2 separate regions of the Homo sapiens genome follow, and region 2 is linked to region 1. The links come from fine-mapping of genetic effects on gene expression. Tissue or cell type: whole blood. Region 1 holds a variant in brackets; the other region holds the start of a gene. All regions are shown on one strand. Distances are between the middles of the regions.

What was found. PIP is the estimated chance that this variant, and not a neighbour inherited with it, causes the effect.
Region 2: AEBP1 starts here. The variant in region 1 is fine-mapped to the expression of AEBP1 in whole blood (TOPMed, PIP above 0.99).

What each region holds. Positions count from the first base shown.
Region 1 is chr7:43,727,510-43,733,566 of GRCh38, reverse strand. COA1 (cytochrome c oxidase assembly factor 1) reads left to right here and starts at 4,044. Exons shown (of 6, transcript NM_018224.4): 1 at 4,044-4,138. RefSeq lists enhancers at 3,734-3,933, 3,300-4,028, 4,029-4,758. The variant G/C (reference allele first, on the strand shown) is at 3,725.
Region 2 is chr7:44,100,970-44,107,026 of GRCh38, reverse strand. It overlaps AEBP1 (AE binding protein 1), which reads right to left and starts at 2,682. Exons shown (of 21, transcript NM_001129.5): 1 at 2,109-2,682; 2 at 140-481. The coding sequence starts at 2,361. RefSeq lists enhancers at 5,228-5,727, 5,728-6,057.

The DNA.
Region 1 (6,057 bases):
CCTCGCGATCCGTCCACCTTGGCCTCTCAAAGTGCTGGGACTACAGGTGTGAACCACCGCACCCAGCCTACAATTTCCAATTTTTTGAATTGTCCTGTCAGTCTTTGCTTCACATTTATTGAAGCTCTGCTATTAGTTCCAAACAATTTTTTTTATTTTGAGACGGAGTCTCGCTCTGTTGCCCAGGCTGGAGTGCAGTGGCACGATCTCGGCTCACTGCAACCTCTGCCTCCCAGGTTCAAGCGATTCTACTGCCTCAGCCTCCTGAGTAGATGGGATTACAGATGCGCACCACGACGCCTGGCCAATTTTTGTATTTTTAGTAGAGATGGGGTTTCACTATGTTGGTCACACTGGTCTCGAACTCCTGACCTCGTGATCCGCCTGCCTTAGCCTCCCACAGTGCTGGGATTACAGGCGTGAGCCACTGCGCCTGGCCAGATTCATACAAATTTAAGACTGTTATATCTTCTTGATGATCTAACCCAATTATTATAAAATGTCCTTTATTTTTTGCAATCAGCATATTTGAACAGCTACAATTTCCTATAACAAAATTATAGGAGGTGCACATTATTTCCTATAACAAACATGTAGAGCATGTGCTTGGAGTACATGTAAAAGCAAACACAAAAGCAAAAAACAAAAAACATGTAGAGCAAGCATTAACTTTACATTAAACAGGACATATTGTAAGAGATAAATAACTTTTTCAGGGTTAAAAATCAGGATATCACAGGTGAATTTCTTGTAAACAAACTAGGCAGGACTGAATTTCATGCTGGTAGTAAGATAAGCAAGAAAGGACATTCATACCAACCTAGCTAATGTTAATTTTCTCAGTGTCTTTGAGGTAAATACTGTCTAACTTTTACTTATTTTTATGACAGGACATTATGGCACGCTCAATGCTTTGTTTTCTCAAAGCTCTTATGCCAAAATTTTCTTCTTTCTCTCAATAGGTGGATAGTTCCTTAACATGATAAAAGATGTCTACTTCAGTCCTTAAAACCAGCATCATGCTTAATGGGAAAATTCTAAAGATATCTCATTAAAGATAGGAATAAGACATAAAAGTCTACTGTCATTATTATTATTAAATATTTTACTGGAGATACTAGCCAAAACAATTAGATATGAGAAAGTAGAGGTATAAAACTTGGAAAGAAGTAGGTAAAACTATTTCAATGATAAGATTGCAATCTTAGAAATTCTACCAGAATGAACTCCAAACAATAAAGCAACTTAGTAAGGCAGTGGATCACAATATTAATATGCAGGAAATGATACTTTCATGTATACATACAACTACGATGTGTAGTAACCTCATTCAGATTTGATAGTTATAGGATCCTGCTGCTCTTGAGTGAATCTCAAAGCAGCCATTTAACCACTTAACAGTAGCCCTCATACAGCATTATAGTCAGCCCCTCCTCTCTTCACCTCCTACCCCTTCCCTGGCTCCTTAGTTTAAAAGTATCAAAACAGACCCTTTCTTTAAATATATAGAAAAAGAGAGGTAGAATGTGTATTTTGATGGGTAATTTTGGCTATAAGAAACAGAATCCCTGACTTAAGGTGAGTTAATAATAACTAAAATTTATTAAGCACTTAAAATACTTACAATATGACCAGCACTATTTTAACCCATTTAATCTTTATGGCATCTCTATCAGAAAACAGTAAGGATCCCAGCACTCTGGGAGGCCAAGGTGGGTGGATCACTGAGGTCAGGAGTTCAAGAGAAGCCTGGCCAACATGGTGAAACCCCTTCTCTACTAAAAATACAAAAATTAGCCAGGCGTGGCAGTGCATGCCTGTAGTTACAGCTACTTGGGAGGCTGAAGCAGGAGAATTGCTTGAACCCGGGAGGCAGAGGTTGCAGTGAGCTGAGATCATGCCACTGCATTCCTGCCTGGGCGACAGAGTGAGACTCAGTCTCAGAAAAACAGAAAACAAAAACAATAAGGAAACTTATTAGACATTCCTACAAGGCATTCAGATACAGGGTGAGCTCCAGGTTTGGAATGATGTCACCAAGGACATTGTTTTATAACTTGTTCAGTTGTCCTCAGCATTGGTCCATCAGTTTTATTCCTTGTGATGGGCAAGATGGCTACTAATGACAGTGTGGGATAGATGTTTCGACGTCAAGAGGACAGTATATCAGAAACTTTCTCCTGAGCATGAAATAGAGGTCCTTTCCTTCAGTCAGATTGCGCCAACCTGGGTCATATACTCGTTCCTTGATTAGCAACTATTTCCAAAAAAATTCTGTGTGAAGACTGGTTTAATCAGTATCATTTTGATTCTGGGAACAGGGCAGCTATCTGAATAAAATAAGGATTTTGGTACAAAGGAGTTAGAGGAAAATGAATATTGGATAGGTAACATTATTCACTATAGAGTTTTGTTTTTAATGTAAAATTTAGACGACAAAAAAATTCTGTGTGATGACTGGTTTAATCAGTATCATTTTGATTCTGGGAACAGGGCAGCTATCTGAATAAAATAAGGATTTTGGTACAAAGGAGTTAGAGGAAAATGAATATTGGATAGGTAACATTATTCACTATAGAGTTTTGTTTTTAATGTAAAATTTAGACGAAAACTTTAGCAGATTTAAGTCCAGTGATAGAAATGTTAAGTTCTGAGTTTTCAAGCAAATGGTCAGAAAAGCCTATTTAATGTTTTATTACTTACAAAGTAAACATATTTCTCTTTCTGGTACAGAACGGGAGCTAATTGATCTCGGGTTCATTTTCATGAACGTTGTATGAAATGCACATATACCAAACCTCATAAGCTTTTTATTAGTTGATTTATTCTTTGAAATATTAAGCTTGGTGTAAGGTATTATAACCTCAATCTCTTTGAAAATGTAATAAGTCAATAATCAATGTTGCATCAATGAATATTACTCAGTGGATGCCTATTTTATTTCTTCTTTTTCTCTAAGAACCATTTAAATAGTCCTTATGGCCGAGCACTTCACAATCTGATTAGTTTCTATTAATTCTTTGGAAAAGAAACATTCTGGGAAGTCAGAATTCAGCGGTAGGTTGCTTTGATAATGTGCTCATTTAGCTAGTGGATTCCAGAGTGATAGAATGTATGTTTGGCAACCTAATTGTTGTGGAGGAAGAAAAGAACTTCTGTTAGAAGTTTTTAAAAAAGTTTAAAAATTGTTTTTACCTCATCAAAAGTTTGATGTCTTGTGAGTTTTATAGCATGCATAATATATTAATGCCATACATGACACATGTAAATATATATATATTTTTTCTGATAGGGATGTGTGAGCAAGAGTTTAAAGAAGAATGCCCCAGTCTAAAGTTAATTAGTCTTGGAGTGATGGCTTCGCAGAGGAAAGATACTGGATTTCAAGCTTGACATTAAGGTGATAATAGTGGTGACTATGGAATAATCAATATAAAAATAATAACAGCTAACAGTTACTGAGCGCCTACAAACTGCCAGACACTACTCTAAGTGCTTCACATCCTCATAACAAATTTATGAGGTAAATGCTATTATTATCCACCAGCCTTCTGAAATTTTCTTACCCCGTTACTCCCTGGTGTTAACTGGGTACTTAATTTGTCGAATAAAATAAAATTTAGTGCTGCCAAATTTGTCAGCTGAACGGGGCGGCAGGAATTTCAGTGCTAGAGTGGGGGGCCAGACGGCCCGGGGCTTCGTGTCCTTGGAGGCCAGCGGAAGC[G/C]CCGCATACCTGTGAGGAGCAACGTGAGCCGGTGGCTTATATTTCCTGGGCTAGTGCTACTGGACTGAATGCATTTGCAATAACCGGACGCAGAAAAAAAAAAAAAAAGCGGGGACCAGGGGAGGCGAAACCCTTCCCGGCGCGAGTCCGAGCGTCTGAGAAGCAGAAGCCACACGTCCCGGCGACCTAAGTTCTGGATCAGCCGGCCGGAGGACCCGTGTTAGCATTTACAATCCGAGGTGAGCTGAAGCCTCCGGTTGTCCCGGTTCGACGCTCTAGCCCTGCGAGCAGCCGACGCCGGAAGTCTCTACTGCTCCCCGCTGGCGCGCAGGACCGCGGGCATTTACCCGTGCTTTCCCAAGCCTGGAAGAACTCGTCATGCTCTTTGTAGCGTGGTGCTTCTGTTGCTCACAGGTTAGTCTCCCGCGGTATAAGAGTCTCCGTCTTCCCCCCAGCAAGAAGCGTTTGTTCCTGCAATTCGGGGGGCCGCCTTTGCGCGCGGGGTGCGCTGCTTCTTGGAGAGTTCCCTCACGGGTCACATCGCGGAGGTTCGCGCCGGCGCCGGGTCGCGGCCTCCCTGCGCAGCTTCTTTGGCACCTGGTAACCTTCAGTGGCTCCGTCCGCTCGGAGTTAGGAGGCTGTGTCGAGCTAACCTTGACCTTGTCCTGCAGTTTTTGCTGACCATCCCCAACAGCACACTGTAAAGAGTTAGGGTCCTCTCGAAGAGTTGGGACTGGGCACTTTTGTTGGTAGTGCTAAATTTCAACACCCTGAGGAGTACGCTGCCCAAATTATTGTAGGAAAGAATTACCTGGTTTAGTGGTTATAATACTTTTTGTCCCCACCACACTTGAATAACAGAAAAACCCTCCCAACAGGGGCTGACTGCAAAAGTGATTTTCTGTGTAGGGGACATTGGATGTATTTATGTATATATCAGTGCCTATCAGTCTGTATGTGTGTTTGGGGGTGGATGCTGTGTAATTTAAAAAAATCTATGGAGATTCTGATAATTTGATAACCTGTTTCTCCGGTCTTCCCCTGATTCCTCCCCATTCTCCCCGGAGGGCTATTGCTTTATTTCTGAGGTGGCTCACGTTTGGATAGAAGTAGCAACTCTCCGCTTACACCTGCACGTTTAAAACGCATATCAGATTGTGTTATTTCTGTCCTCAGAATCTTCCTGGCCTTCCCGTTGCTTTCAGGATAATACACATTTCTTAGCCTAACTTCAAGGGCCTACAGGGTCTTGATTCTGCTGAGTTTTTCAGTCTTTGCTACTTTCATGGAAAACACACCTGCAGGTACACTCATATTATGCTCCCACCATGCCAGTCTACGGTAATTTAATAACTTTAGATATGGCAAAGTTTTATATGGTTTACTCAAGTTTTAATTTTTGTTCTAGCATTTAGCCAAAATCGATTGAATTCATAATATTGCTAGGCACTGTTTTAAAAACGGGATAAAATGAAAACAAAACAAAACACAAAACAAAAGTCTTCAGTCCTTTAAAAAAATAAAACAGCTTCCTGACACATAGTTCACCTACCGTAGAGTTCACCATTTAAAACGTAGCGGTGCCTCACGCCTGTAATCCCAGCACTTTGGGAGGCCGAGGCGGGTGGATCACGAGGTCAGGAGATCAAGACCGTCCTGGCTAACACGGTGAAACCCCGTCTCCACTAAAAATACAAAAAATTAGCCGGGCGTGGTGGCGGGAGCCTGTAGTCCCAGCTACTTGGGAGGCTGAGGCAGGAGGATGGTGTGAACCCGGGAGGTGGAGCTTGCAGTGAGCCGAGATTGCGCCACTGCACTCCAGCCTGGGCGAGAGAGCTAGACTCCATCTCAAAAAAAAAAAAAAAGAAAGAAAACCTAAAAGTAATTAGTACATTAGTACATTCACAAAGTTGTACAACCATCATCATAAAATATGCTGTAATCTTCTTCACCTTCATTAGTTGGTTTAATTTTCTATTTCAGACAGACTCCAATAAGTTATTCTTGTATTCTTTTGTTCATGTTTAATATGCTGCATTCAGTTTGTGAGAGCCATATTGGAACAATTGAACATTTTCATCACTCCAAAAGGAAACCCTGTACTTATTCAGCAGGCTCACCTGACTTCCCCATCCCCACTCCCCATTCTAAGCCCTAAGCAACTATGAATTGACTGACTGTATATTTGACTATTCTGGATTATTCATGTGAGTGAAATCATACAGCATGTGGTCTTTTTCAACTGGCTTCTTTTACTTAACATTCATGTTCATCTGTGTTGTATTTAATAGCATGTGTCAGTACTTTTTTTTATTGCTGGTTAATCTTTTATG
Region 2 (6,057 bases), 370 kb before region 1:
ATAGCAAAAGTGAGGTTCCCATCCAGTGGGGAGCTGAAGGTCTATAGGAAGCAGGGCCCCAGAAACCTGCCTCCCACTCCCTGCCTCCACCCGAGCAGGCAGTCAGAGCCCCATCACCCCAGAGGAGCCCGGCACAAACCTCCCTCCTGGGGTAGCTCCTCGGGGCCAGGGCTGGGGGGTGGGGGCAGTGGCCACTCCAGGGTTTCTGAGGGAGCCAGAATGGGGGGCCTCTTCCCTGACGGGGGCTTCTTGGTGGCCTTGGGTGGCTTCTCTTTGGGCTTCTTGGTGGCCTTGGGTGGCTTCTCCTTGGGCTTCTTGGTGGCCTTAGGTGGCTTCTCCTTGGGCTTCTTGGTGGCCTTGGGTGGCTTCTCCTTCCCCTTCTTGGGCGGCCTGGGGGACCCCTCCAAGGACTCCTTGGGCACCTTGGGGCCTTTGTCTTTCTTGCCTTTCTTCCCTTTGTCTTTGGTCTTTTCCGGAGGCACTGTCCAAGATGCAGACTCGTGTCAAATGAACAGAGCCAGCTCTGTGCCCCCATGAGGCCCCTCTCTAGATGCCCAGAACCTGGGCACAGGGACTCTTGTCAGTTCCCAGTGCGGATCAGCAAACTGAGAGGTTAAGTCATTTGCCCAAGTGGCAAACTGGGATCCGGACCCAGATTTTCTGTCTGCAAGTCTGGGGCTGTGACCACCAATCTCAACCTCTCTAAAGACTGAGCGTAGGGTTCCCAGTTCCCAGGGGGAGGCCCTCATCCCCCCACCTGCCAAAACCTCAATAGGGGTTCCTTACTATCCACTCCTCCACTATTCTGTTCTGGGCACAGAAGGGGCAGAGAGGTGACTGAGCCATCCAGGCCTGGAGGAGCATCTGGTCATCCCTGCCAACTGCCATACAAAGGAAGGGACATGGGCCCAAGACCTTCCCCTGGTCTCCTACGGGGCAAGAAAAGCTTCAAAGAAAAGGGACACTTGGTTGAGTATTGAAGCCCAAAGAAGAGGAAGTGGTCTCCTTTCGAGAAGTAAGGGGTTTGGAATTGATTGGAAGGATAGGGAGTCCTGGGGGGTTCAGGGATCACACAGAGGACAGAAAAGACAGGTAGGGAGCTTGTGGCTGCACACTCATTTCAGAGTCTGGGAGAGGGAGCAGGGACTGGTTGTGAGGATTCCCCATGGGAATCCTCCCAGGACCCTAAGCAGGAGCTGCAAGTGCTGTTGAGAACCTGATGAGAGGTGGGGAGCATGAGGGAAGTTTGGCAGAAACACAGGAAAGCTACCAAATGCAGACAGCCAGGGGACGCAGGGCTGCTAGAGCGGTGCCCCAGAGCCAGGAGAGCAAGCCTGGAAGGAGAGCCAGAGGCAGGAGGGGCACAGGCAGCCCAGGGTGTGGGAAGCAGCCAGGAAAGATCTAGAGCTGGGGTGGCAGGGGAGGGGCTGCTGACATCAGGAATGTTGGATGGTGCCTTGGAATCTCCTGGGAGACAGGGATCACAAGACCCTCTGCCACCTTCCAGAGGGCCACGATGAAAACAGCTAAGATTTACTGACAACTGATTATGCAAGAGGCCGTGGGTTAAATGCTTCAGTGATGCATCACCTCATCTAATTTCCTGTACTAATGTAGGACCACCCATTGCTCACCACCACCTGAAGCCCTGTGCTCACCACCACCTGAAACTCTCTCACCTACGTGAGACCTCCTGGAGTAGGAGGGCAAAGGCAGGAGGGAGGGACGACGTGAAGCTGTGCCACCAACAGGGAGAGTGGTCCCATTAGTATGGCAGGGGGTGACACAGCACAGTCCCCTGTGGCTCAAGCCTAGTACCTGTCGCGTACTGGAGGAATGGGGATAAGCGACCCGTACAACCACAGCACCAACCCTAGAGCCACCGGCCCCCAAAAGCGGCCCTGCCGCCCGGGTGCTGGATGTGCCTCCACGCCAGCGCTGACCTCGGCCTAGCACAGGGTCCCTCCAGGCATCTGGGCTCGCGTGCGCATTAGTAAGCCAGCCATTCCTCCCCTAGCAGACTGGGGAGTGGCCAGACCCTACCGAATCCCCCTGTTCCCACCTGAGATGCCAGCCCCCCACACCCCCGCCCTGCCCTGGGCTCTTACCTTCTGCGGCCGTCCCTGGCCGCTTCCCTGGCTTGCCCCCCGCCTGGGCTTTTCGGACCCGCGGGGTGGGCTCGGGAGGCGGCGGGGCCTCCACGTCGTCCTCCCGGGGCTCAGGTTCTAGCTCTGACAGGAAGCCCTCGAGGAACTCCTCGATCTCGTCGTCGGTCAGCACCGTCTGCGGGCGCCCTCCAGGGCACAGGGCCAGCAACGCCAGGAGGCAGCTGAGCAGGGGCGCCCCGCGCACGGCCGCCATGGCCGCGGCACGCGCGGGGGGCTCCGGGGAGGGCGCGGGGGGTCAGGGGCTCTGGGTCTCTGGGAAAGGGCGGAGAGGGGATCGAGACGGGTGAGGGAATCCAGGAAGGGGCGGGAGAGAGGATGGGGTGAGCGAGGGAATCCGGGAAAGGGAGGGAGAGTGGATTAGGGTGGGCGAGGGGACCCGGGAAGGGGTGCTGGGGGGCTCCGAAGCCAGAGGGGCTCAGGGGTGGTCGGGGCGCTCCGAGGTCCTGGCGGCTAATAGGCGCTCCGGCCCCGCGTGGCGCACTCCCGCGCGGATAGCCGTCTCCAAAGCGCTGGCGGGGCCCGGGGCGGGGGCGCCGGGGCTTCCGGAGCCGGCTCCCCACCCCCGGGGAGGAGGAGGAGGAAGAGAAGGAGGAGCCGAGAGTGGACGGAGGGGCTGCGGGGGGGCGGGGGGCGGGGGGCGGGGGGCTAGGGGCGGGGCAGGCGGGCGGGCGCTGGCGGCGAGCGTCCCAAGCCCGGAGACTTGCGCCTAGGACAGAGGGGCAGGGGGCGGGGCGACTGGGAAGACAGAGGGCCTGAGGGAAGGAAAGGTGGTGGGGAGGGCCTGGGGTGCGGGTCTGAGGGGGCCGACATCCCTCCTCCTTCTGCCCTAGGCACCCCCCTTAAGGCGGGACCCCGAGTCCACCGGGGCTCTGAGCCCTCCGCGGGTGACCAGGAACCCTGGACGGAAAGCCGTGGTGTCAGGCCTCTGAGACCTCTCTCAATTCGGAGGGCCACAGAAAGGCCACCCCATCCTTCCCAGGCTCTGGAGCCTCTGCCCATGGGCCCTGCTGCATCCCAGCGTCAATTCATTCAGTCATCCTACCAACCTCTTCAGGTCGGTGTGGGGCCGGGCCCCGTGCTGGGCCCCAGGGAGGGACAGCACAGTGGGAACTCACTTTCCAGCCAGGAGGCAGGTGCAAAACTGCCCTCAGAGTGGCCAGCTGCCCCGCTGGGGGTAGGAGTCCCATGTAAGGGCATGCCATCCCTCCCCTCCGGGTCCCAACGTGGACAAATAGCCATTTATCACCTTCTTCTTACCAGAACTCATTTTTTAAAAAGTGTCTACCATACCTCCAGCTGCCACATGGACCCAGAGGGCCCAGAGGACCCAGAAGGCAGGTGGATTGAGTGTCAACTGATCCCAGGATCCATCAGGGATGTGCACCTTGGTGCCTGGTGTTTGCCATAAGGCTTCTCCAGGGCAAATGTTGGCTGCCCTACAACGGCCATCAACAGGCAGAGTGGTCCCATTAGTATGGCAGGGCGTGACACAGCACAGTCCCCCGTGACTCAAGCCTAGTCCCTGTCTCATACTGGAGGAATGGGGAGCTAAGGACAGAGCTCCGAGGACATTCCCCCTTAAAGGAATGAGGACACAAGAGAAAGCTCACAGGTAGTCCATGGGCCAAGTGCAGAGGCAGACAGCCCTAAGCCACGATTGTCTGCGGGGTTTGGCCCCAGTGAAGTAGTCAGGTAGGGAAGCCTAGGAGCCCCTGGGATGATTGACAGGGCAGAGTTTGGACCTGGGGTCAAAAGGAAAGAGGAAAAGTGGGTCAGGAAGCACCTGGGTCCCCAGAGCAGCCCCGAGTGAGTTGGAGCAGGCAGCAGCCGGGGAGGCCACAGTGGAGGCTGCTGGGCCTGGGATACATGCCACCCCCTGGGAGCAGGACCACAAGGAGGCCTTGCCTCCTCTCACACCTGGTCCTGCCAAGACCCTGCCTTTGCTTTCTCACTGCATCTCCTTGAAAAAGCAGTGGGACTGTGTCAGGTTCTGGCTCTACCTCCCAGGCACCACATCTCGGCAGGTAGCCTCAGTGCCGTCCACCTGTGTCCCTGTTCTCCTTGTCGTTCATACAGGATCATGCATGTGCTGTGCCTAGCACACATTCTTGGCACTCACACTGCTGCCTTTTAGCTCTCATCATTTGCCCTCAGAGATCAACCTGAGCTGTGCCCACTGGGGCGCTCAGAGCAGACCCTGAGCCCCAACACCCAGGCTCCCTGTGCACCTGAGCCTGCCTCTGCCTGCCACGTGCCCCCAGGCCAGTCCTGGTGGCAGCAAGGATCCGCAAGCTCTCCCCTTTCCTCATCCTCTGCAAAGCTCTGAATCATCTTTCTCAAAACTTGTTCTGGGAATTTGCTCCGTTGCCCCAGTTGAGCATGTCAAGCCCGGCGGCCCAAGGCTGGGGTGAAGCAGCGTGGCACGTCACTTCCCTGGGAACAACTCACACATGGATTGGATTTGGGTCCAACATCCTCTGCCAGGGAAAATAGAAGCCATAAGAAAACAAAAAAGGAACAGAAGGAGGCTTTTCTTCAGTCACAGCGAGTCACCAACAAAAACATGTGCAAAAGCTCTCATGGAGAGCTGGGCCACAAGGAGGGCCATGATGTTGGGGGCCCTCTGACACCAAGGGTGTGGGCAGGTGGATGGGAGGCAGCTGCCCTCCATGCCAGGCTGATGTGCCTCCCTTTGGGTGGTGGGGCTGGGACTCCCACTCCACTTGAAGACCTGCACCAAAAAGTCCTTTAGCCCTGTGCCCAGGCTCTGCCACGGGGCCGGTGAGGGGACTTCTCCCCTCTGCTGCCAGAGTGAAGCCAGTCAGGGGGATGGGAGGCTTGTAGCCAAGAGCACCTAGTGGCTTTCAGGGTCCCTTACCCCTGCCACTTAGCAGGGTCTGCACCTGCATCCAAGTGTTCTCCTGGGCTACAGTGGGGGGCTGGTAGACACTCTGGTGATCCACTTTCAGCTTCCCACATGGATGTGGCAGGGACTGCTTTGGCATTTCCCTACCCCAAGGGACAGCCACTGCGGCAGGACTGGGCTGGGGAGGGTGGGGCCTGCGCTGGGGAGGGTGCCCCCTGTCCCTTGCTGCTGCTGGAATGGGAAGGAGAGTTGTTGAGAGAGCCAGAACTGTCCAAGGGTGGAAGCTGGCGAAACTGACCTGCAGGGAACAGGGAGACAGGGAGCATGGCCCAGTGAGTAGGTCCTATGTAGCTCTGAGGCCATCAACCCTGCCATGAGGGCTGAGACCCCAAGAGAGAAGTTGAGGTTGGGTCAGGGGCCTGTTAGTGCCAGCTGAGGAGGGGGACAGGCCAGCCTCCTCCCACTGGGACCCAAGCTATAGCTCCTGAGCCTCCAGAGCTGCCTGGTGCCTCAACCTGGTCAGAGGTGGAAACTCACCTGCCAGCAGGCCCAGTGTGCCTGAGTTCTGACTGTGGGGATCTGCAGGGCACAGAAGGATAAGAGGTCATCAGGGCCTGGGGACAGGCAGGAGTGGCAGGGTCTGGGAGGCTGGGAGCAGACCCTCCCAACCTGCCCCATGGCCTCTGTGGCCCCCAGGACCCCCATGGCAGCAGCTCAGACACGGGTTGTGCCTCAGAAGGAAGTGAAGCTGTGTGTACCGAGATGGCCCAGCAAACCCTTTGTATGTAAACTTCCGCCACAGCCCAGCTGTCCAGCACCAGCATGTGTATCTGGGGGAGGGGGATAAATAGAAGGTCTGGGAGGCCTGGGATCTGGCCAGCAGGCTACTGGGATCACAGATGCCAGCCCCTCCATATCTCCCCTTGAGTCCTGGATCTGCCTCCTGGGACCAAAGGGGAAAGGACCAGGCTAGGCTCCTTCCTTTTTGTTCTTCCCTCTTGGGGGAGGCTCCTAGAAACTCCC